4 linked regions of the Homo sapiens genome follow. The protein of the gene in region 3 interacts with the protein of the main gene of each other region in a pairwise test. Each region holds a gene or a part of one and is shown on either strand. Other genes may lie near its edges.

Evidence for each region.
Region 1: the proteins of ICAM3 (region 3) and SMCO4 interact in binary tests that used the Homo sapiens proteins (3 or more experiments, as listed by UniProt).
Region 2: the proteins of ICAM3 (region 3) and TSPO interact in binary tests that used the Homo sapiens proteins (3 or more experiments, as listed by UniProt).
Region 4: the proteins of ICAM3 (region 3) and CLDN4 interact in binary tests that used the Homo sapiens proteins (3 or more experiments, as listed by UniProt).

The regions. Positions count from the first base shown.
Region 1 is NC_000011.10:93,477,968-93,484,422, reverse strand, and holds the end of SMCO4 (single-pass membrane and coiled-coil domain-containing protein 4), read left to right. Parts: intron 1-5,138; coding exon of another isoform or gene 5,139-5,233; coding exon 5,234-5,413; coding exon of another isoform or gene 5,414-5,553; 3' UTR 5,554-5,951; downstream 5,952-6,455.
Region 2 is NC_000022.11:43,147,258-43,154,573, reverse strand, and holds the start of TSPO (translocator protein), read right to left. Parts: upstream 3,016-7,316; 5' UTR 2,970-3,015; exon of another isoform or gene 1-2,969. UniProt on the Homo sapiens protein: Can bind protoporphyrin IX and may play a role in the transport of porphyrins and heme. Promotes the transport of cholesterol across mitochondrial membranes and may play a role in lipid metabolism, but its precise physiological role is controversial.
Region 3 is NC_000019.10:10,333,276-10,336,659, forward strand, and holds the end of ICAM3 (intercellular adhesion molecule 3 isoform 1 precursor), read right to left. Parts: intron 2,702-3,384; coding exon 2,396-2,701; exon of another isoform or gene 2,079-2,395; coding exon 1,791-2,078; intron 1,546-1,790; exon of another isoform or gene 1,508-1,545; coding exon 1,253-1,507; intron 1,134-1,252; coding exon 885-1,133; intron 785-884; coding exon 582-784; 3' UTR 501-581; downstream 1-500. Other genes in the region: RAVER1 (ribonucleoprotein PTB-binding 1), read right to left, coding at 14-232. UniProt on the Homo sapiens protein: ICAM proteins are ligands for the leukocyte adhesion protein LFA-1 (integrin alpha-L/beta-2). ICAM3 is also a ligand for integrin alpha-D/beta-2. In association with integrin alpha-L/beta-2, contributes to apoptotic neutrophil phagocytosis by macrophages.
Region 4 is NC_000007.14:73,826,277-73,833,190, reverse strand, and holds CLDN4 (claudin-4), read right to left. Parts: upstream 2,196-6,914; 5' UTR 1,990-2,195; coding exon 1,360-1,989; 3' UTR 501-1,359; downstream 1-500. UniProt on the Homo sapiens protein: Can associate with other claudins to regulate tight junction structural and functional strand dynamics.

The sequences.
Region 1 (6,455 bases), on a different chromosome or scaffold from region 3:
ACTTCAAACCTGTGTTCCTACCATTCCTTAATAGGATCTAACACTCTGTGTACATTATAATCTCCAAATCGGAGAAAAGTGCATATAAGAAGTTAGCATGTGTGCATACATGCATATCTATATACATAAGTAGGAAAAGACGGGAAAGTTCTAATCACAGAAAAAAAATCACAAACAATTCTGTGCTGAAGAATGCGTCCCTGCTTTCCTCCTCTCTGCCTCTGGTCTCCTGCCCACACATACTGGGGACCATTTGGAGTGTCCCCATGCTGACCGGTTGCCGTGGGTGTGTGCTGGTGGGGGGTAGGAGCATAGCAGGTGGAGTTTCATTAGAATTAGTAGAACTCAGGCATTTGTGAAGTTTCCGTTTCCCTGGTTAGGGAAGCTAGAGGCCGTGGGGCACTGGCATTTGAGAAGCTGGAGGCTGCAGCTTCCATCCTGCCTGAGCTGCTTGCTGGGCAGAAGCCAGGCTGAGCGTGTGAGCTTCATTTATTTCTCTCTGCAAGGGGCTGCTGAACCATGATGGGGGCACAAAGTGGGCGAAGGGCGGGAAGATAAGTGGGGTACACCCAGGAAGGTGGGGACTGTCCAGGCTTCAGAGTCACAGATGTGGGTTTGACCTTTGACTCTGCCAGTCCTTTCTTTTGTGTCAGTGGCAGGGCCTTGGATTCTTCCTTGTGAAACTGGAGCAGTCATTTTAGGCAGAGCTCTTTCCAGTGTAAGGGACAGAGACCCCTTGGAGCCAGCCAAAGTTGAAAGAGGCGTTCATCACATACAGAGACACGTCGGAGTACCCTGAGGACAGGAACCTGTGTAGAGCTGGCCTCACAGGGGACTCGACTAGAAGGAGGAGAGTGTGGAGGCTTCTCTTGTGGCCTCTCTGGAGTGCTCCCTCCACCCCCAGGCCTCTCTCCCACCTGGCTTCCCTGGTGACTACAACTGTGTGATTGTCCAACTTCAGTGTCCATTCATGTCTCTTAGATTCTTGAAGTAGAGGCCAGTTGGCCCAGCTTCTCCTTTAGGCAAGCCCACATTTCAGAGGTCCTAGCAGATGTGCTTGAGCCAGCCCTGGCCCAGGAGGCCGCCCGGTGCAGCCCCTGGGCCCAGAGCCATGGTGAGGCGATCCTTAGCCCAGAGGGAGGCGGGCATGGACAGTGCTCTGTGGTGGCCTTTCCACCCTCCAAAAGTGATTGCTTCTTGATTTCTCTTTCCCTGAGTCTGCCTCCCAACTTCCCAGACTTTAAGCTGAAACCTTCTCCTATTTCATTGAAAAAAACAGAAGCCTTTAGTCCCCCAACCCTCACAGTACGGAGCCACCCCTCGCCCCCAGTGCCATCTTCCTACCTCCTCTTGTTGAGTTCAAAGGGTCCTTTGCCTCTCGAAGGCAGGTCTGTCCATTCAGCTTCTTGTCTTGCTCCTACAGAGACCTCTTCTTTTTTCAGTGTCAGGGTTTTCTCCCATTCTATTAGACCCCTCAAACATCATTCTCTAGTTTCGCTTATTATTTAAAGAAAAAGAAAGAAAAACCATTTTGGCCACACACATTCTTCCCACAAAACTTCAAAGCAGTTTTCTGCCCTGGTGCTGTTTGGCGTGCTGGCATGCAGACCCGTCATCACAAGCTACCGGAAGACAGAGGGGCTTGCAGCAGAGTGTCAGCCAGCTCTGCACTGAGCACGTGCCACTGACAGTTTTTCCCTGGCCAAATATTCCCGAGGAAGGAAGCAGTGCGTTCGCTTATGTTCTGGCACAAATGCCTCTGTCTTCTCACAGTTGACCTTCTTGACTGTCTTGGTCCCCACGACAGCACGTTCTCTTTTGCCTCACTCCTTTTCTCTGAGTACCCCATGCTTGCTCTTCCCCTTCCTGCCCTGTAGCTGTCAGGGTGAAAGGACTCAGTCCTGGGCCCTTTCTCTGCCTGCCTTGGACATGATCTCTCTTAATCCAATAGTTGATGACTTCCAAATACAGATCTTCAGCCCAGACCCAGCTCCTGACTCATTTATCCAATTGCCTCCTTGATATTATTTCCATGACGATGTCTAAGAAGCATCCTCACATGCAGAGCACTCAATGCGCTTCTTGAGTCCGCCCTTCCCCAGTGCCCATGCCCTCCCTGGCTCAGGCCACTCTGCCCTCTGCCTGGTGCTCTTCCCAGCTTTTTTCCTGGTTGGTCCCTTTTCACCATAGGGTCCCCTCCCCAGTCGTTATCTCAGAGATGCTTTCCCTTGCTGCCCCAGCTCACAGGTGAGTGAGAGCAGAGACGCTGCTCCTCCTGAAGCCTGATGAAGTACCCAGGATTCAGACGGGCATGTTTGCCCTTTAAATCCTGACCAGACCGGCCCTGGCCCCAGCAGCTTGAGGCTTTTTTCCATGCCTCCAGGAACTTCTGAATGCATCTTACAAATGTTGAGAACTGGTCATTGTGGAGGCTGGGGCCTTTGAATGTCAACTACACTTGTGTGGGTGGATGCAGACAGCAGCATGAAGTGCAGGAGGGAAGTCAGGCCCAGCACTGCTAGCCAGCCAGCCAGGGCATGGCTAGCCCCAGGCCTGGGGTGCCACCTGCCAGTCCTGTGAGGAATTTGGGAGAGACAGCAGCGGGCTCCGACAGGCCATTAGCTCCACAAGGAAATGGCCACGAATCAGAGTGCTGCTAATGGCTTGTTTCTTTTTAAACAATTTTTTTGAGGCCGTGTCGGAGAGAATAGGCTGCCATTTGCAGCTTTGAACAGGAATGCTGTCCATTGCTCTGTTAGAAGCCATGGGGTATTTACAAACTGGGTGACTGTTGGCAAGACATTTTTCCCCTTTGCTCCTTGGTTTCCTCCCTTCCGTGATGGGGATAATAAAGCCTGTCTGTCTGACTCACAGGGCCGTTGGGGTGTGTTCCAGGTGTTGGTATGTCAGCTAGCACGAATTCGCCGCCCGCTCTGTGCCAAGCCCTGAGTTATACAGCTTCCTACTCCATCCTCACCACGGTCCCGCGAAGGTGGGCATCACTCAAGGCTGCAGTCAGGCTTAGAGGAGCTCAGTGCACCCGTCCCTGGGCCGCCCACGGGTATGGGTGGAGATGTCTCAGCCCACCTGTACCGCGTCCCTGCGGGCGGGCAGAGCTCTGGGTACAGATGCATTTGTTTTCCAGATTCTCACAGTCATCCTTTAAGACAAGCTGTTCTCATTGTTCAGATGATGGCATGGAGGCCTAGTGGAGTTAAGTGACTTGCTCAAAGCCATTTAGCCTGTAAGTGATTGGTCCTGGATTTGAAGGCAAGTCTGCCTGGAAGTCCTTTGGAAGACTTGAAAAGGAGAATTGGTAAAGCCAGGGGTTCCTATACCTTTCAGGCCTTAAGAAAGTAATAGTAGGTGTTTTTTTTTTTCTCTCTGTTCCTTATTTCATGAAGGAAATTATACATTTGCCCAAATGGCGCTTCCCTTAATATTTGCTGAACCTTAATGTTTGCTTTTGATTGGCATTATGCCATCCTAGCACAATAATATTTGTCATCTCATACCTTAGGAAACTCTGCCTGATTTTGAATGATACAAAAAAGGTTTTGGGGTCTAAATGGAGTGAGAGGAATGGTAAGAGATTAAGTATCCCTCATAAAAACAGGATGGTGTCAGTAAGACCTTTCCCAACTCTGAGTTCACATTCTACCACCTCGGTCACTTAGGTGTAAATGTCATCTTCCTCCTCAAGATGATGACAGGCCACCCACTACCCTGGGACAAAACAGGGCAGACAGTATACAGCATAGGTCCCTCTGCTAGAGGAACATTGGTATTCAGTGCTCTTCTGCTTCCAAGAACCCCTCACTCCATGCTACTCTCCGAGAATATTGTAATGGACATCTGCCTTTGATATAGCCCTGATACCCAACCCCACTCCGTCACTGTGTTTGAAAAGTACTCTTCCTGCTGTACAAATTGGAAGGCTAGGCTGTGGGCATATGGGCCGGGGCTTGGCTAGTCACACATGCATGGAAGCTGGTGATGCAGAATGCTGGGGGGTGGCGAGTTCATCTGGAGACTGTGCCAGCAGCCACATCTAGTTTTTGGGGGTGGTCATGGTGGCTCGGCACCTCCTGCTCCAGTGCCCATGTCCAGTGCTGACGGTGGTGATGCAGGCTCTGGCATCCTCACACTGGGAGTGTGAGTTGGGCTCCAGTTATGGCAGCACAGCATAATGTCCTGCCCATTTTCTGAGCCTGGTTCTTTGGCTTTTCTGGGAATCAGTGAGATGCCAAAGGCCTTTAAGTAAACTCGATTTAAATCAGCTGAAGTCTGCTTCATCTGCTTAAAGCTAAGAAGCCGACTTTTATAGAGATGTTCCTCTGTAGTTATCCAAACATTTGTATTCATTCTTCTGGCCCCTGAAAGTTCTACTTCACCTGTTAGGCACCTCCGTGAGCTACAGAATTAACAGGAGAATCCCAGGTTGAGTGGGTGGCAGGACTGTGGGCTCAGCCGTCTCCCTTCATTATTACTGTGACCCGGGTCTCCATCATGCCCCCTAGACGGTGACCTCTGTGGGGACACAACTGAGTCCTTCATCTCTATCCTCAGCTCCTTGAGTAATGCTTGGCACACGGTGGGTGCTTGGGAAGGTTTGGATGAATGGGCCAAGGAACCAACAAAGAGATGAGAGAAGTTGATGCCTGTGGGCTCTCTGCAGCCTTAATGAGGCTGGCCTGGCTTGGGCAGGAAGGGGGCTACGTGCCTGGAGACTGCAGGCTGCCTGCAGTTCCATGCTGGAGATGGGCTGGGGAGATCATGGAACTTAGAGCAGGAAAGCAAGTAGCTAGAGCCACGAAAGGGAGAGCCGCTCCTCTGAGTGGAGGCGGCGTAGTTGGTGCTTCCCAATCCTTTCACCTCATGGCATGTACAGAACACAGTATTATTTGTCTGGTACCCAGGGCTTTGTCCAGCTGGCGCTGGAGCGGAGGCCCCTCTCACAGCACACCGGTGACCCAGTGCCCACTACTTAGAGCGCTGATCCCAAGAGAACTTAGAGCCTGGTGTGGCCTCTGTTCTTAGCCCTTTGTCATGTAAGTTGCAGATATTTTTCCTAGTTGTGTATTTGCCTTTAAGTGATTTATTTTTTCTTCTATTTGGTTTATTCTCTACTATCACAGTTGTTCTCTCTACAGGAGGTTCCAGCCTTGGCAAGAGGAGTGTGGCCCTTCCTGGAATCCCTCTGGACACACCCTCCTAGCATCCTCTAGGAAAGATGCGGCAGCTCAAAGGGAAGCCCAAGAAGGAGACCTCCAAGGACAAGAAGGAGCGGAAGCAAGCCATGCAGGAGGCCCGGCAGCAGATCACTACAGTGGTGCTGCCCACGCTGGCCGTGGTCGTGCTCTTGATCGTGGTGTTTGTGTACGTGGCCACGCGCCCCACCATCACCGAGTGAGCCCCGCAGCCGGCTGCGGACCCCATCGGCAGGGAGAGGAGGCGCGGGAGGGGGACGCAAACAAAAAATGGCTTTCATATTCAGAGATGTTCATGTTGCTGAGCTGTAAGCAGGAGCACCCTGTCTTCTCTGGTCTTTGACTTGATTAAAGTATCTCCGCTTTCTTGGGAGGGAATAGGGGATGTTTTATCAGTGAATGTGCCATACACCTTATGGTCCACTTCATGTGCCTTTCAGACTTCAAAGCGCGCGCGCATGTGTGTGTGTGTGTGTGTGTGTGTGTGTGTGTGTGTGTGCTTCTTTTTCTCTCCTAAAAATCGATAAGTAGCTCCACCTGAAGAGGGATGGAACCTCTGGGTCAGGAAACAGCTGGAATCCACACTCACCTCATTCCCATTGTTTGGATCATGCTTCTTTCCAACACGTGTTCACAATCTCCAAAGGGACTGTATTTCTTCTCTGTGCTTAATGTGATTTGAAATATGTTGAATCAAAGTGAAATATTTATTTTTTGAATAAAGGAGATAATAGCCTTAAACTGGATGCTTATCATGTTTTGCAAGGAGGTGCTGTCTGTGGGTCTCCCCCTGCCCACGGGTCTGCCCCTCTTCCCTCCCCTTCCCTTTCTCCTGTGGCTCTCTCCACCTTCCCCAGCACTCCCTCTGCTCATCATTTCTGAGTAAAATTATGCTTTTTGACCGATAATTTTAAGATGGAGAGGGACAGAAAGGGTATATTAATTGGCTTGCTTTAGAAAGTGAGAGTTCTAATTAGACTGTGACGACAGGTGCTTTTTACACCAGTTAGTTTTTCCTACTTCAACTCGGTATGTTTGTGCAAACAGCAATACAGAGTGATCCTGGAAGTAAAGGTCAGGCTTGGTTTTGTTCTTAGCTGAAAGGATGCAAATTGTTGGCATTCCAGCTGAGTTTTCAATGCAAATTGGCTGGAATGGTTGCCTCATTTTATTCTAACAGCACTGCTCAGGCGGTCCTGGTTCCTGATGGAGCAGCCTCTTTTTGGAAGTCAGATTCATGGTTAC
Region 2 (7,316 bases), on a different chromosome or scaffold from region 3:
CCAGCCTGGCCAACATGGTGAGACCCCGTCTCTACTAAAAATAAAAAACTAGCCTGGTGTGGTGGCGCACGTCTGTAATCCCAGCTACTCAGAAGGCTAAGGCAAGAGAATTGCTTGAACCCGAGAGGAGGAGGTTGCAGTGAGCCAAGATTACGCCACTGCACTCCAGCCTGGGCAACAGAGCAAGACTCTGTCTCAAAATAAATAAATAAATAAATAAAGCAAACAAAAAAAAAGAAGGCGACCCAGAAACACAATAAGGAATGTGTCCCTTCTCTGATCCCCACCCCGACCCCCAGCTGCACCCACTCCCCTGAGCCTTGTCTCTCCAACGAAGCCAGCACTGTCCCAGGGACTTGTTTTCAGGCTTTTTAAAAATGATTCATGGCTAATCGTCCTCATCGTAACCTTTGTGTGCATTTTTCATTACAAAAGTAACCAGTGAAACAGCCCACAGGTCTGGAAAAATCCACAGCGAACCTGGCCATCGAGTGGCCTGGGAGAGGGTAGGGTGAGGGTGGGGTATCCAGGGGGAATTGGTTCTGTTAAGAAAGACTACTTCCCTTTCCTTCGAGGTTCGGGGGTTAAACTTTTTTTTAGTAAAAAATAAAGAAACAGCCTGGCCGACATGGTGAAACCCATCTCTACTAAAAATATAAAAATTAGCCAGGCTGAGGCAGGAGAATCACTTCAACTCTGGAGGCGGAGGTTGCAGTGAGCCCAGCTGGAGCCACTGCACTCCAGCCTGGGCAATGGAGCGAGACACCGTCTCAAAAAATATATATATAAATAAAAATAAGAAATTAAGAATGACTTCCCTAGTGGTCTAGTGGTTAAAAAAAAAAATAAAAAAGACTACCGTTTTAAACAGAGAGCACATCCAAGCATTGTTTGCACCATCAAAAGTAAAGAAAACACAAATAAGCCGGGCGCGGTGGCTCACGCCTGTAATCCCAGCACTTTGGGAGGCCGAGGCGGGTGGATCATGAGGTCAGGAGATCGAGACCATCCTGGCTAACAAGGTGAAACCCCGTCTCTACTAAAAATACAAAAAATTAGCCGGGCGCGGTGGCAGGCGCCTGTAGTCCCAGCTACTCGGGAGGCTGAGGCAGGAGAATGGCGTGAACCCGGGAAGCGGAGCTTGCAGTGAGCCGAGATTGCGCCACTGCAGTCCGCAGTCCGGCCTGGGCGACAGAGCGAGACTCCGTCTCAAAAAAAAAAAAAAAAAAAAAAAAAAGAAAACACAAATAAGCCAGGAACAGTGGCTCATGCCTGTAATCCCAGCACTTTGGGAGGCTGAGGTGGGAGGATCGCTTGAGCCCAGGAGTTCTGCAGGAGACTGCAGTGAGCTATGATTGCATCACTGCACTCCAGCCTGCATACCAGAGTGAGACCCTGTCTCAAACAAACAAACAAAAACAAGAAAGGAAGGAAGGAAGGGGAAGAAAGAAAAAAAGAGAAAGAGAAAGGAAAGAAGGAAGGAAGGAAAGAAAGAAAGAAAGAGAAAGAAGAAAGAGAAAGAAGGGGTGGGAAGGGGAGGGGAGGGAGGGAGGAAGGAAGGACGGAAGAAAGGAAGAAAGCAAGCTAAAGTGAAAAGTAGGCTCCCTCCCTGCGAGCCCAAGCCCCTCACCCCAGCTGGAGAACCCGCTGTGAATACTTTCTGGTAGATCCAGCCAGACATCCTGCCTCACGCCAGGCACAAGTGTGTACAGACGACAGGACACAGCACATGTGCACACACACACTCCCAGGAAAGAAAGTGGTCCTCGGGGCACAGTGGAGAAGGCAGGCTGGGATCAGCCTGCACGGGTTCTGGCCCTGGCTCCACCGCGCCAGCTGCGTGACTCTGGACAAAGGCTTCTTTGGCAAGCCTCAGTTTCGCCGAACCTCCCTGTGGGGCTGCCAGCAGCCAGGTGGAGACTCAGGGGCCGCCTTCCCCTGCTGGGCTGAGGCTGGCTCTCCTGTCCTTGCCACACGGCCCCTTTCACCGCCAGTGGAAACCTGCCTCAGGCTGCCCTGTCCCGGGCCCCACCGACTCCACAGAGACGCCGGGCCTCGCCCACTGTTCTGGCAGTAGGCCTTCATGGGCAGGGCTTGCTGTGTGCCAGGCAAGCTGGGCGGCTGCTTCCTGTACACCACCTCCCCTGATATCCTCGCCCTGCCTGAGCCCATTCTGGGACAGCCTCAAGTCCTGTCTCTCCTGCCATCCAGCCCAGGGCACGCTGCTGGTATCCCGTAGCCCTGGCCCCTGGCAGGCTGGCCAGAGGGGCTCCAGGCCCACGCCAGGCCATGGCCTCTGGCAGCTGCCCTGGCCAGCAGCGCGTTCACAGCAGGAAGCCCCCGCTTCTCCTACCTGGGCTCCGGCTTCTTTGCAAGGGGTAGGGGAAGCAGACAGGTCCCAGAGGCTGCTCGGCTCACAGTAAGACCCGTCTAGGCTGCAACGCACCTGAGCCCCGCACTGGGAATCGAGGGCCAGGGGGCCTCTAACCGGCTTTGGGCAAAATAAACTTCCCCGATCTGGACTGTTCTCCACTACGAAACGGGGTGTCTCGGAGATCAAGAGCCCGAGGTCTCCCAGATATTCTGAGACCCTCAAGGGAGTTCCGCCTGGGATTGCCCATCCGCGGAATGGGCAGGAGAGGGAGCGTCGGCCACTCCTGGGACCGCGCTTCCTGCAGGAGAAGCCACGCGGCCAAGGGCTGGGCGTGGCAGGGTTGTCCAAGTTTTCCCTCCCGAACCCCCAGCCGGAGGCGGCCCGCGCTGGAACCCCGGCCGCGGAGGCCCAGACTCTGCTGCCCGCCGCCCCCTGACCCGGTAGCCGAGCCCCAAGTGCTGCCCCGGGTCGCCCCCTCGGGTGTCCAGTCTGCGGCTCCGGCCTCAGTTTCCCTCTGTCCCGCGGCGCTGCCAAGAGTCGCAGCCATGCGGGCCCCCACTTCCCGCTGCCCCCTCCGCGTCCCGTCCTCACTCACCAGCGGCGAGGGCACGCTCCGGGAAGGGCACTGCCTGGCAGGAGTTAGCCAGGCCGCTGTCCCCGCATCCGCCCCGCCCCTCCCAGCCGCCAGGCCCCGCCCCTCTCAGTCGCCCGGCCCCGCCCCGCCCCGCCTGGCAGCCCGGGCACTGGGCCCACTCGCGTCCCCGCGGGACCGGGAGCTCACTCCTCAAAGCCACCTCTCCCGCGGGACGCGCTTCTGCCTCCCCCCGGCCGCGAGCAAGTCTCTCGGCTCCTCCTCCTCCCCATGGTGACCGGTGACGGCCGCCCGGCCAGACCCAACATCTAAAACGTTGCCGTGTGTCCAACGGCGTGTCGTTTGTCGTCTCTTCTAGCCTCACTTTTCCCATCTATAAAATGCAGCAACAAGACCGATCTCCGAGTGGGGAATTACCTCTCCTGAGGCCAAGGCCCTGAGCGTCCTGCTGCCCAGCAGCCTTGGCCCCATTTCCGGAGCACCCCAGTTCCTTGAGCTGTTGACGCAGGGCACGGAGGCAGCGCGCTGCACTCTTAGTCCTGGCCCAGCCACTTTCTGACTGGCTCTCTGGGCCTCCATCTCCTCATCTGTAAAATGGGCACAAAGTCGTGGGACTGATGAGGCCGCAACGCGGTGATGCAGGCAGGACACCCCTCAGATGCTCGGCGCTCAGTGAGGGGAGGCTGCCATCATCACAGCCCAGAGGTGGCCTCCAGCTGCCCAGGTCCACTCCCATGCAGGGTGTGTCCAGCCCCAGGCCCTTGGCACTATGGCTGTCTTGCTGCAGTTCAAGGCTGTCCCAGCTCCCTCCAGACAACTCAGCCTGGCAACGCCCCATCAGCCTGAACCAGCCACGTTGGCCCAAACTGATCCTGCAGGGTCCAAGGAGAACTGTGGCTACTTCTACCCAGACACAGAAGCCAGGAGCCTCCTTGGGGACCAGCCAGGCTGCAGTATGGCTTTCCTAGGACCTGGCATTTTTGCCTTTGTGAGCCTCTTCCTCTATTAAAAAACAAACATACATAAATCTATTTTTTACTGTGTTGGCCTGAAGACAAGGATAACCCAGGCTTGGTTCCATTCTTCATTCATCTTTTTCTTCTGGGTTTCTTTTTTTTTTTTTTTGAGACGGAGTTTCGCTCTTGTCTCCTAGGCTAGAGTACAATGGCACAATCTCGGCTCACTGCAACCTCTGCCTCCTGGGTTCAAGTGATTCTCTCCTCCCTCAGCCTCCCGGTAGCTGGGATTACAGGCGCCTGCCACCATGCCCGGCTAATTTTTGTATTTTTAGTAGAGATGGGGTTTCACCATGTTGGCCAGGCTAGTCTCGAACTCCTGACCTGAAGTGATCCACTGCCTCGGCCTCCTAAAGTGCTAGGATTACAGGCGTGAGCCACCGCACCTGGCAGCTTTGTTTTTTTTTTTTTTTTTCTTTTTTAAAATTCCTTCTGGCCAGGCACGGTGGCTCATGCCTGTAATCCCAGCACTTTGGGAGGCCGAGGTGGGTGGATCACTAGGTCAGGAGTTCGAGACCAGCCTGGCCAACATGGTGAAACCCCATCTCTACTAAAAATACAAAAATTAGCTGGGCATGGTGGTGTGTGCCTGTAATCCCAGCTACTTGGAAGGCTAAGGCAGGAGAATCTCTTGAACCCAGGAGGCAGAGGTTGCAGTGAGCTGAGACGGTGCCACTGCACTCCAGCTTGGTGACAGAGCGAGACTCCGTCTCAAAAAAAAAAAAAAAAAATCCCTTCTTAGCCGGGCGTGGTGGCTCACACCTGTAATCCCAGCACTTTGTGAGGCCGAGGCCGGTGGATCACCTGAGGTCAGCAGTTCGCCACCAGCCTAACCAACATGGTGAAACCCAGTCTCTACTAAAAATACAAAAATTAGCTGGGCATGGTGGCAGGCGCCTGTAATCCCAGCTACTCAGGAGGCTGACACAGGAGAATCGCTTGAACCGGGAGGTGGAGGTTTCAGTGAGCCAAGATCACGCCATTGCACTCCAGCTTGGGTGACACAGTGAGACTCTTTCTCAAAAAAACAAAACAAAAAATAAAATAAAATAAAAATAAGACACACATGTGGCTGGTTGCAGTGGCTCACGCCTGTAATCCTAGCACTTCGGGAGGCCGAGGCAGGCAGATCACTTCAGGTCAGGAGTTGGAGACCAACCTGGCCAACACGGTGAAACCCCATCTCTACTAAAAATACAAAAATTAGCTGGGCGTTGTGGCGGGCACCTTTAATCCCAGCTACTCGGGAGGCTGAAGCATGAGAATCACTTTAACCCGGGAGGTGGAGGCTGCAGTGAGTCGTGATCACACCTCTGCACTCCAGCCTGGGTGATAAAGCAAAACTCAATTTAAAAAAAAAAAAAAAAACCACACACGTGTACACATTACAACAATAATACCAGGTGTGCCCATTCCCCAGTTATGACCAGAACATTACGAGAGTCCTAGGAGCGCCCTGGTGACCTCCCCAGCGATTCCTCCCCTCCCCAGAGATCACCTTTACTTTGACTTGGGTTGATCACGCCCTTGCTTTCCTTTAGGGTTTTATGAATCCCACCCGGGTGTGTTTCCCTGAGTACTATGTGTGCAGAGAGGCAGCACACCCCCAGCTGGGGCAGAACAGGCACCATGGCCAGGCCAGAAGACTCCCGGGAAGATAAACTCAGCTGAGCGCCTGGGGTACAGGCTGGGCCCGGCCTCTGTGGGCACTGACAAGAGGCCCCTCTGGGGCAGGCAGAGGGCATGGTTGTGGGTGGGGCTCCCCTGTGAGGACGTTGAGCACAGCTGTGGCATGCGCATTCAGCAGGAAATGGTCAGGGGCATGAGCTGTTCTGTCTCTTGCTTCTGAGCTCACAGTGCCCTGAGGAGTAGGGTGCTCAGACCTCAGGAGCAAGGTGAGGCCTGTCAGGTGAGCCATGTGTCCTCAGCAGACCCAGGCAGCAGGGCGAGAACAGGGCTTCCTCAGCCTGTGATAGGGACCAGTCAGGTGCAGGCAAGATTCTGGGCCAGCGTCAGGTGCAATGGCTCAAGCCTGTAATCTCAGCACTTTGGGAGGCCGAGGTGGGCGGATCACGAGGTCAGGAGATCAAGACAATCCTGGCTAACACGGTGAAACCCCGTCTCTACTAAAAATACAAAAAAATAGCAGGGTGTGGTGGCGGGCACCTGTAATCCCAGCTACTCGGGAGGCTGAGGCAGGAGAATGCTTGAACCCGGGAGGTGGAGGTTGCAGTGAGCCGAGATCATGCCACTGCACTCCAGCCTGGGCAACAGAGTGAGACTCTGTCTCAAAAAAAAAAAAAGAATCTGGGCCAAGCTTGTGGGGCATTCTGTACCTAAATGAGCAGCATGGCAGTAGGGATGTTGGTAATGCCAGCTCTCAACACATCTCAAGTCACGCTGCTCCCCGCTGGACAGGCTGCACAGGTCCAGTACACACACCATGCCCGGGTCTTTCTTCACCACCTCCGCCCCCTCCTGCATGGGTCCTTATTTCCTGGATTTCACATCTTCCTCTTTCTTGGTCCCCCCTTGCTTGTGTTGAGCCTATCCTCCAGGAGTTCTTGAGAAAGACTGCCCGGAAGGTAACATTGCTGAATTCTTGCATCCTACCCCATAGATGGCTGATGCTTGGCTGAGCTGCAGATCGTTGTCCTTCAGAATCATGAAGAGATGCTGTTGGCCAGCTGCCACACTGCGGTTGAGCAGGCTAAAGCCATTCTGTTTCGGAAGTCTTTGGTTGTTTTTTGTTTTGTTTTTATTTTTTTGTAGACACAGGGTCGCGCTATGTTGCTCAGACAAGTTTCCAACTCCTGGGCTCAAGCAATCCTGCTCCGGCCACGCTGTGGATCCTTTATATGTAACCGATTTTGTTCTTCCTGGAAAGTTTTTAAGATTTTGGGCCCCAGAGTTCTGCAGTTTCACACTGATATTCCCCTATGTGGGACTAATTTTTTTTTTTTTTTTTTTTTTTGAGACCATCTCACTCTGTAATCCAGGCTGGAGTGCAGTGGTACGATCTCGGCTCACTGCAACCTCTGCCTCCCGGGCTCAAGCAATTCTCCCTCAGCCTCCCGAGTACCTGGGACTACAGGCGAGCTCCAACACACCCAGCTTCATTTCCTCCACTGTGCCTGCACTCAACAGGCACTTTCCCGCTGGAAGCTCATTCTTTACTTTTCAGAAGTTGGATTATTTCTTTGATTTCCTTCCCTCTATTTTCTCACTTCTCTTTCTTTTCAAATTTATGTTGTGCAGCAATCACTTCCTTTCTGGAACTCCTATTACTCAGAATGTAGGGCCTCTAGGGCTGTTTTTCTAACTTCCTTTTTCT
Region 3 (3,384 bases):
CCCCCCCCAATACCTGGTTGGTCACGTCCCCCGGGAGGCCCCGGATCAGTATCTTGCGGCGGTTACGGAACTGGCGCTCGGTGTGTTCCAGGCGTTTCCGGATCTCTTCTGGATCTAGAGGCGGCAGCTCTTCTTCCGGCGCCCGGCGCTCCGCGGCATCGCCGGCTTCGACTTCGGCCCCAGACTTAGGGCTCAGCGGGGGCCGGTGAGTAACGGACACGTCCGCCGCCATCTTGGGAAACCCGGCGCCTTCTGGGACCAGCGAGCCGGGGCGGAGCGGCATAGAGCGGCAACGAGGGCGCGCCCGTCGATTGGCTGGGAGAAACCCCACCTCCTTCCCGCCCCCCTTGCCCCGTTGGCTAAGCCCCAGCCCACCTCTCAAGAGTTCAAGCTGCGTCTGCGCGCCACAGGCCCCGCCCCCTTCCGTCGCAGCGACGCTACTCAGTGGATGTGCACCTGGGTGGGAGAGACTTGCAGCGCGGGTGGAATCAAACCACAGATTAGGGAGTTTGAAGGCTTTATTGGTGCGGAATCTGAGGGCACAGCCAAGCCCCCGCCAACTTTGATCCCGGATCCCAGCGTCACTCAGCTCTGGACGGTTCTTCCCCCATTGCTTCTGTCGGCTGCATAGACGTGAGGGGCAGATAGGTGCTCTCCTCCCTAACATGGTAACTGCCGCTCCGTTGGTGCTCCCTGAAGACGTACATTAAGGCCAGTACGATAGTCACCACGCCCAGGGTCAGTAACACCGCCACGAAGACGGGGACAAAGTGGGAGCTCCCAGCTGTGCAGAGAAAGCGCTAAGTCAATATGCGTCCCTTCTGTCTCCAACCCCCCCGCCCCCCGGCTTACCGGTCCAGACCCGCAGCCCCGTGTTAGCTCACCCTCAATGTCCATCACCACGACCAGGGTGTATTTGCCTCGTGAGCTGGACGCTTGGCACTGATAAGTACCATTATGTGTTACGTTGACGAAGAACGGGATCCCCACCGGCACCTCCCGGCTGGAGCCTTCCTTCAAACACCGCAGCTCGGGGTACGGGTTGCCCCTGGCTTGGCACTGCAGGACGTGTCTCGTTTTATCTTTCCATTTCAAGTGCTGGGGGCATGTGGCTCGGTCAATTTTGGGACCATCTGTGGAACCACCATGTGTGATCAGACACCCAACACACCCGAGGCACAGTGGTGCAGAGGAGCGTCTAATCTTTCCAGGGCAGGGGTGGAGGGATTAAAGGTCAGGGTGACCGACTCACACAGGACTCGCAGCTGGACGCTACTGTTCCTGTGCAAGAACTCGCCGTCCACCTCGAGAGTGGCACTGCAGAAGAAGCTGCGTCCGTCGTCACTCTCGGTAGCATTTAGCTGAAGTTGAGCTGGCTGCCCCGGGGCCGCGGCCGGAACTCCGTCCAGCGTGACCTGGACTCGAGCCCCAGCCATGCAACTCACGGTCACTGTGGACCCCTCATGGGCGGTGGGCTCGCTGAGGTTCACAATGGGTCCTAGGAAGCCTAAAGGCGGGGCATTGCCCAGGAGCTTAATGAACAGGACCTTCCTGTGGGTCAAGCCGCTCCCTCCGCCCTCCCCTTTCCTCTCGGGATATCCGGGCCACGCTTTCGGCCGTTCAAGCCTCGCCCTCTTTCCGCGCTGTGTCCAGCTTCGGGCACTCAGGCCCAACCCACGTTGCAACTGCTATTGGGGCAAGCCAGGCCCCACCTTTTCGGCTAGTCTCCGCCCCCTCTGCCACGCCCCCAGACTGCTGAGGCCGCGCCCCCTTCCCACGCCTCCTCTTACTAAAGACCGTCAAGTTCTCCCGGGCCTCCCGTCTCTCGCCCCCTAGGGTCACGTTGCAGACGATCTCCCGGGCACCCTCCTGATCCGCGCGCGCCGTGGCTGTGGCTGTGGCCGTTAGCGTGTCCCCGTGGTTCATGACTGTCGCATTCAGCATCTGGTCCCCCAGCGCCAGGTAGACCTGGGCCTCTGAGGCTGGAAAAAGCCCGTCTAGGGTGCAGTCCACCGGCCACGACGTTTCCACCTCCAAGAACCGGGGGGCCACGAGGCGCGGGGGGGTCACGGGCAGGACTGGGGAGAAAGGTGGGCATAGTACAACCCCCAGGACTGTGCCTTCCCCAGGACACCCTCATCCCCCCCAGTCAGGATATCTTGCTGACTGGGTCACCCTTCTTCACAGGACACACACACAGGGCCATGAAAACGGCCTTCTTCAAAGATCCCACGGCTCGGGCCTCCCTTCCGGGGCCACCTTGCCCAGTGGCCGGGGGCTTTCCTTCCCAGAAGCCTGTGAGGTCCGGGGTACCCCACTCTCAGGAACCCCAAGGTCAGGGCACCGTCTACCCTGGCTCAGCTCGTCACCCACCGTCTGAAGCCCCTTCTCTCACCAAAGGTTCGGAGCTGGCGGGGGGCTGAGGTGTTCACGAACAGTCCCAGCCCCTGGGGCTGCATGTCCAGTTCTGTGCGGCATGAGAAAGGGGCTCCGTGGTCGTCTCTGCTGGCCAGCACAGTGGCAGTGACCTCCGCTGGCTCCTCCACTGCGGGCTGCCGGCTCAGCTCCTCCTCCCAGCGAAGCAGCACCACCGTGAGGCTGGTCCGGGGCGACCCATCCTCCACTTGGCAGCGCAGGGTGAAGTTCTGGCCCACCGGCTGCCAAGGAGGCAGGGGTGCCAGCTCCACACGCTCCGGGAGCCCTGAGAGAGGAGGGGAGGATGGCACTTAGCGGGTCCTGCAAACCCACCCACTCACCCCAGGGACTGGGGAGGAGACAGGGTGGTCCTGCCGAGAACTGTGAGCTTTGAGTTAATAAACTTAGAGGGCTTAGAGCTGGGCCAGTCGAAGCGTTTGCTATTATCATTAGCGCAGTGATTATCATTTCCTGTGTTGTCAGATACCTTGCAAGGCGCTAAACAAAACTTTCTGTTCTCAAAGATGGCACAATAAAAAAAAATGAGGATGGAAGGGATGAACGTTTATGACTATGATATGAATATTAAAAATTCCTGTTTATGGCCAGACGTGGTGGCTCACGCCTGTAATCCCAGAGCTTTGGGAGGCCGGGGTGGGTGGATCAAAAGGTCAGGATTATTCAGTTCTCTCCAATCAGGTTCAGACACTCAGGGCTTTCCTGGTTCACCAGCCCTGTGGCAGCCTCTCAAGATACTCCGGCACAGTCACAGGAGACTTGACACTCCCAGGCTGGGTGCCCTCCCCAGTACACCTACAAAACGCTGGGCCTCAGGCCGGGCACTGTGGCTCATGCCTGTAATCCCAGCACTTTGGGAGGCCAAGGTGGACGGATCACCTGAGACCAGGAGTTCAAGACCAGCCTTGCCAACATGGTGAAACCCCATCTCTACTAAAAATACAAAAATTA
Region 4 (6,914 bases), on a different chromosome or scaffold from region 3:
AGGTGATACCTTGGAGGCCCGTTTCGATTTTTTTTTTTTTTTCGTTAAGAGATAAGGTCTCGCCCTGTCACCCAGGCTGGAGTGCAGTGGTGCGATCAAAGCTCACTGCAGCCTCAAACTCCTGGGCTCAAGCAATTCGCCTACCTCGACCTCCCCAAGTACAGGGATTACAGGCATGAGCCACCACACCCAGCTAATTTTTTTAACTTTTTGTAGAGATGGTGCCACTATGTTCCCCAGGCTGGTCTCAAACTCCTGCCTCGAGCGATCCTCCCACCTCGACCTTTTAAAGTGCTGGGATTGCAGGTGCTCACTACCGCACCCGGCCCAGCTCCAATTTTTCACAATTCCCTGGATCTCGTTTTTTTTTTTTTTTTTTAAGTGTTTATGTCCCGGCCAAAACACAGTGGTCCTGCCCCTGACTGACCCCCCCCACCCCCGCACCCAGGCCTCCAGCCCTTCCCCACCCACCTCCACAGTTGAAATCAGAGACAATAAAATTTCCTCCTGTGCACAGGTCCCATTTATTGTAGAAAATAATAATAATTACAGTGATGAATAGCTCTTCTTAAATTACAAAACAGAAACCACAAAGAAGGAAGAGGAAAAACCCCAGGACTTCCAAGGGTGAAGCTGTCCCCTCCTCCCTGCCACCCTCCCAGGCTCATTAGTGTCCTTGGAAGGGGCAGAGGACTCAGAGGGGATCAGTCTCCAGGGGCCCTGGGCTGAAGCGGGTGAGGCAGAGAGTCCTGAGGCCACAGAGCTGGGCAACCTGAGCCGCCTCTCTGGCCCCCTCCCCCACCACTGCCCAAACCTGTTTACAGCACCTTCGCCCCTCCCCTCTAAACCCGTCCATCCACTCTGCACTTCCCAGGCAGGTGGGTGGGCAAGGCCTCAGCCATACTCCTGGGCGCGGGTTTCGGTGAGCAAGGCACAGTCCCAGAGGTGATATCAAGGCCTACCCGGAACAGAGGAGATGCAGGCAGACAGAGTGGGGAAAATGTAAATGGGGACAGTGGCCAACGCCGATGCAGGCAGATCCCAAAGTCAGGGTTAAGCTATCCTGGCCAGCAGAAGCCAGCTCCCCACTCCACCACCACACCCTGTCACTTCCGTCCCTCCCCAATATCCAGAGGAGGGTGGACTCTGTTCTTGCTAGCAGGAGGCGGCCTTGGGAAGTTGTCCGAGTGGGCCAGAGAGGCTGAAGGCTGCTGCCTTCCTGCCTGGCTCAGTCTCTGCCCAGTCCCCAGTCCCCAGCAGCCAGTGGCCCGTGGCAGGGCCCTCCTGGGGTCACAGCCTGCGCTGAGCTCAGTCCAGGGAAGAACAAAGCAGAGAGGAACAGAGTGGAGCCGTGGCACCTTACACGTAGTTGCTGGCAGCAGCAGAGCGGGCAGCAGAATACTTGGCGGAGTAAGGCTTGTCTGTGCGGGGTGGACAGTTGCAGCAAAGCAGCCCCCCGCCAAGGAGCAGCAGGCCGGAGGCGGCCCAGCCGACGTAGAGCGAGGCACCCATCTCCCGCTTCTGCCCGGAGGCCACCAGCGGATTGTAGAAGTCTTGGATGATGTTGTGGGCCGTCCAGGACACCGGCACTATCACCATAAGGCCGGCCAACAGGAACACCACGCCCGCCACGATCATGGTCTTGGCCTTGGCGCTTTCATCCTCCAGGCAGTTGGTACACTTGCCCCCCACCACGGACAGCAGCACGCCCAGAGCAGCCACGATGATGCTGATGATGACGAGGGCGCGGGCCGCCTGCAGGTCCTGCGGCAGTGCCAGCAGCGAGTCGTACACCTTGCACTGCATCTGGCCGGTGCTCTGCACCACGCAGTTCATCCATAGGCCCTCCCAGATGGTCTGCGAGGTGACAATGTTGCTGCCGATGAAGGCCGTCACGCGCCACATGGGCAGCGCGCAGCACAGCATGACGGCCAGCCAGCCCAGGACGGCCAGCGCGATGCCCATTACCTGTAGCCCCATGGAGGCCATTGTTCAGCGTCCACGGGAGTTGAGGACCTGGAAGGCTGAGGGGATCCGGCTGTGGGGGCCGTAGGATTCCAAGCGCTGGGGACGGACTTAACGTTCGCAGAGTGCACCTTTGCACCGTGAGTCAGGAGATAAAGCCAGTCCTGATGCGCAAGCCAGCAAGTGTGAGCAGACCAGTTCCTTCCAGCCGACAGCTGCCAGGGCACTCTCTCTCGGGGACAGGTTGAGCAGTTATATGGCTCTGGCAGAGGGGCGGGGGCAGAGGGAGGGGTTTTTGTCACTGGGGCCTCCTCCTGACCAGTTTCTCTGGATTCCTGAGCCCAGGCCAACAAAGGCACTTTTGAGGCCCCAGCCCCGGGTCCCTGAGTCACTATCCAGTCTCAGAAGAAACTACTCTCTCCCCTTCCTCAAAGCCCATGCTGAGGTCACCCGGGAGACAGACACTGAATCACAGCCCAGGGACAGCTGGATGTTCACAGGTTAAGGCCAGGGGGCAACCAGACCCAGCCAGGTTTGGGAGCCTGAAGACCAGGGTCCCCACAGGCCAGTGCCCCCTCATTCCAGGCTTAGGTGGGAGGACAGGGTGGGGACCCTGAGGGAGAGAATTTGAGAATGAAGTCTTGGAAACGTCCACGAGAAACCCCACCTTGATTATTGTCATTTCTTGTCCTTACCAGTTTCATCACTGGCAGTTTCACGACTGTTGTGAGTATGATCACTCATGCATCTGGCCTCACCAGCAGTCTTTGCGGCATTGGCCGGATAAAGTTACGTGTAGGGGAGTGAGGAGCCGGGAGGCCAGGACTCCGGGGTACATCACCCACTCTCACCCATCCTTATCACCCAGCTTCTCTGCTTGGCTAGAAGAGGGGCCTTGGACATGATGCACCTTCAGCCAAAAAGAGACAGAAGCCTGTCCCCTCTCCACCTCCATGGAAGTTTAGGCTGGTGGGCTCTGTTCCTGCCGGGATCCAGCCTGCTTGCCCAGAACTGGGTGGGGCCAGTCACCAACGACAAACATGAACTAGATCCTGGAGACATCATCACCCCAGTAAATGGGTGTTTACCCTGTGGAGACATACAAAGCCTTCCAATAAAGCCAGAGTGGGTGCAAAGTCCCATGAGATTTCAAAGGGAAGGGGAACTCTTCCAGGGTGGAGGTGGTGGTGCTGAGGGAGCTTGACTGCAAAGGGGTGCTGTGTGGCACAACTCCAGGGGGCGCCGGATTCTTGGAGTATGCTACAGAAGGCATCGTGAACAGGTCCCCCAGAAAAGTTTTGCAAGGCAGTGGGACAGGCTGAAGGAGGACGTTCTGGTAGACGGTGGGCCAGGCTGGACAAATGCAGCTCATTCTGGGATGACAGCCCTCAGGAGAGATGTGCAAGGCAGCGAGGCTAGTGAAGGAGGACATTCAGGCAGAGAGAACAAGGGCAGAGGTGGCAAGGTGGGGAAAGGCAGCTCGTTCTGGGAACAGCCAGGAATCCAGTTTGACCAGAGACTGGGCTGGGGAGGGAGGGACCAAAGTAAAAGGGTCAGAAATTTCTGCCTGGAATGTCACCAAGCCCTGGAAGATAGAGGGAGGGTGGAGGGTCTAGGATCAGGAAGAGCTTGGTTCAGGGCAGATGACTGAGGGGACCTCTGGGAAGGGGTCATCGTGGGGGTGATTGAGAGTGTCTAGGGCTCATCCCAGCCGCACCGAGGGAGCTCCTCCTCACCCGCCGTGTGGTCATTTTGCATCTCTCTTCCCAACCATGCTGGGAGCTCTGCAGGGGCCAGGGCTCCAGTGTGTCCCTGAGCCGCCGCCATTGTCCAGCACTGGTGGCTGTGTGTCCAGTTCTGACCCAGAAGGATGCATAGTCCTTGAGCTTCCTGAGGGAAAGTCTTCAAGAGTGCCATGGTTTGGGTTAAAGCAATCAGTGAGTACCCATGGGAGGTATTTGAGATGGATCTGTTGACCGGCTAATGAAGCACAGGGCAGGCTGGGACAATCTAGCATGGTCCACCTGTGTTACAGACGGGAAGTTGAGGCCTGGTATTGTGGTTAACTCTATACACATCCGTCTTCCCTGCTAGCCTGGGGCTCCTAGAAGACAGGAACAATGCCTTCTGCAACCTCAGTGCCCAGCATCTGGCTTGATACATCACAGATGCTCAAGAAATGTGAGGAGTGGTTGCTGCGGCTCATGCCTATAATCCCAGCACTTTGGGAGGCCAGGATGGGAGGATCGCTTAAGGCCAGGAGTTTGAGGCTGCAGTGAACTATAATCGCACCATTTCACTCCAGCCACGGGCAACAGAGCAAGACTCTGTCTCAAAAGAAAAGAAAAAGAAATGTTTGGGCCGGGTGCAGTGGCTCACACCTGTAATCCCAGTACTTTCGGAGGCCAAGATGGGCAGATCACGAGGTCAGGAGTTAGGCCAACATGGTGAAACCCCATCTCTACTAAAAAATACAAAAATTAGCTGGGTGTGATGGCGCACGCCTGTAATCACAGCTACTCAGGAGACTGAGGCAGGAGAATCGCTTTAACCTGGGAGATGGAGGTTGCGGTGAGCCAAGATCGCGCCATTGCACTCCAGCCTGGGTGATAGAGCGAGACTCCATCTAAAAAAAAAGAAAAAAAAAGACATGTTTGATGATGGAAAGAACGAAGCATTCTCCAGTTTCAAATCACACTCCTATACCTTGACCCCCATCATAGGCACACACACCAAAGCAAACAGAGATGGTTTCTGCCCAGACCACGCCTCCCTGGGGCTTTCTTTACAAGGCTCCCTCTACACACAGAGCCTATGGGCTGAATAACACCAGAGATAAGTAACATCATGATTGGCGATAAGTGCTTTCCTGGAGATGACCTCATCACAGCCTCCTGCCAGTCAGCAGGGCAGGGACTTTTATTGCCTTGGCTCAAAGGAGTACACTGAAGCCCAGAGAAGGCCAGGGCCTTGCCCAGGACGGGTGGGCACTCCAGCATGGGTGCCTCCTTCCCCAGGTGCCTCTTACCTGTGGTCCCAGCCAGGTAGCCTTTAACAAGCTTTCTGAGTAGACACGTGACTTGGCCAGATGGCCAGAACCTGCCCCCCCCAACCCCCCGCCCGCCTCCTGCCCCCCCGGCCCCCGGCCCCCGCCCTGCCACTTCCTGCCCTTGCTTTCCTGGGACACAGCCAAGTGCCACTTGGAGAAGCAGGCATGGGGGAGGGGAGCATGCAAGCCCTACAACAGTCCACCTGTGGCCCTAAGAAGCTGTCCTTCCCTCCCAGGCATAGCCACGCGTATCGGGAGCTGAGAGCAGGGAGGGGTTGGGGGTTGAGGAGAGGGCAGGTACAGAGGCTCCAGGCATAGAGCAGACACAGGGCAGGGGAAGAAGCACAGAGCTCACGCAGGGCTAGGGGACCCAGGTGTGAAGGAGAGGCCAGAAGGATGTCCTTGGGGATCAGCCAGTAGCTCAGCACAAGTGGAGCTGGAGAGAGATTTGTTGATGCTTTGTTGATGCCAAGAGACCGTTGGCTCAGTCCCACCCACCTGCTGCGGGAAAAACACCAGCAAAGGCAAGGTGCTTCTCTCCTCTCCGCTCCAGCTCCCATAGCCCTAAGGCAGAGGAAAACAAGGAAATTTACCTCTAGGCCTGCATCTGGCCCTCTTCCCAAAGCCCGAAGATCTTTTACAGGAACACCTTATAAGACATCTGCCATTCATCACCTTGGTTTTGGGGTCAGAGAGTACAGGGTTGGCACTCATTTATTTTCTTTTTCTTCTTTATAACATGCACTGTGTGATTTTGTGCTGACAGAATTGGATCACGTGCTTTTTTTTGTTTTTTGTTGTTGTTTTTTGTTGTTTTTGTTGTTTGTTTTTTGTTTTGAGACAACACGATCTCTGCTCACTGCAGTCTCCACTTCCCGGGTTCAAGCAATTCTCATGGCTTAACCTCCCGAGTAGCTGGGAGTACAGGCGCACACCACTACGCCCAGCTAATTTTTGTAGTTTTAGTAGAGACAGGGTTTCAGCATGTTGGCCAGGCTGGTCTCAAACTTCCAGCCTCAGATGATCTGCCCGCCTCGGCCTCCCAAAGTGCTGGGATTGCAGGCGTGAGCCACTGCGCCTGGCCACACCTGCTGGTTTCTATCAAGGATAAAAACCACCAGATCAGCTCACCCATCTCTGCCCACCCCATAAACCATCTTTCCAGCCCAGGAACCATCTCTGAGCCACAGCTTCCTCCTTTGTAAAAATGAGGATGTTGCACCCCCTCCAGGATCAAAAACAAAAACAGACGTGAAATGAGATGGGGATGTGAAAATGCTTCATGAGCCAAAAAGCTCAGGACAAAAGCTGGGAAGCTGTGTATCCATAAGCCATCCTACCAGCCCTGTGACCTTGGAGAAGCCAATTCCATCTCTGAGCCCCAACTTCCTCCTTTGTACAATGAGAACACTGGGGCCCACTCCCCAGTCTGAGATACACATGAAATGAGAGAAGGAAGTAAAAATGCTTTGTGAGCCAAAAAGTTTAATAACAAGAGGAGGGAGCAAAGTTCCGTACGCAAAGCAGCTGCTGCGCAGTTCGGATCCTGATCATAACAGGTGGGAGCTAGGACTTTTCAGACCCCTGTCCCCAGAGTTCCAGGGGCTTGGCCAAGTCCCCAGTTGTTTTGTTTTGTTTTGTTTTGTTCTCTTTTTTTGAGACGGAATGTCGCTGTCACCCAGGCTATAGTGCAGTGGTGCAATCTCGGTTCACTGCAACCTCTGCCTCCCAGGTTCAAGCGATTCTCCTGCCTCAGCCTCCCGAGTAGCTGGAACTACAGGTGCTCGCCACTACGCCCAGCTAATTTTTGTAGTTTTAGTAGAGACAGGGTTTCAGCATGTTGGCCAGGCTGGTCCCGAACTTCTAGCCTCAAGTGATCTGCCCTCCTCAGCCTCCCAAA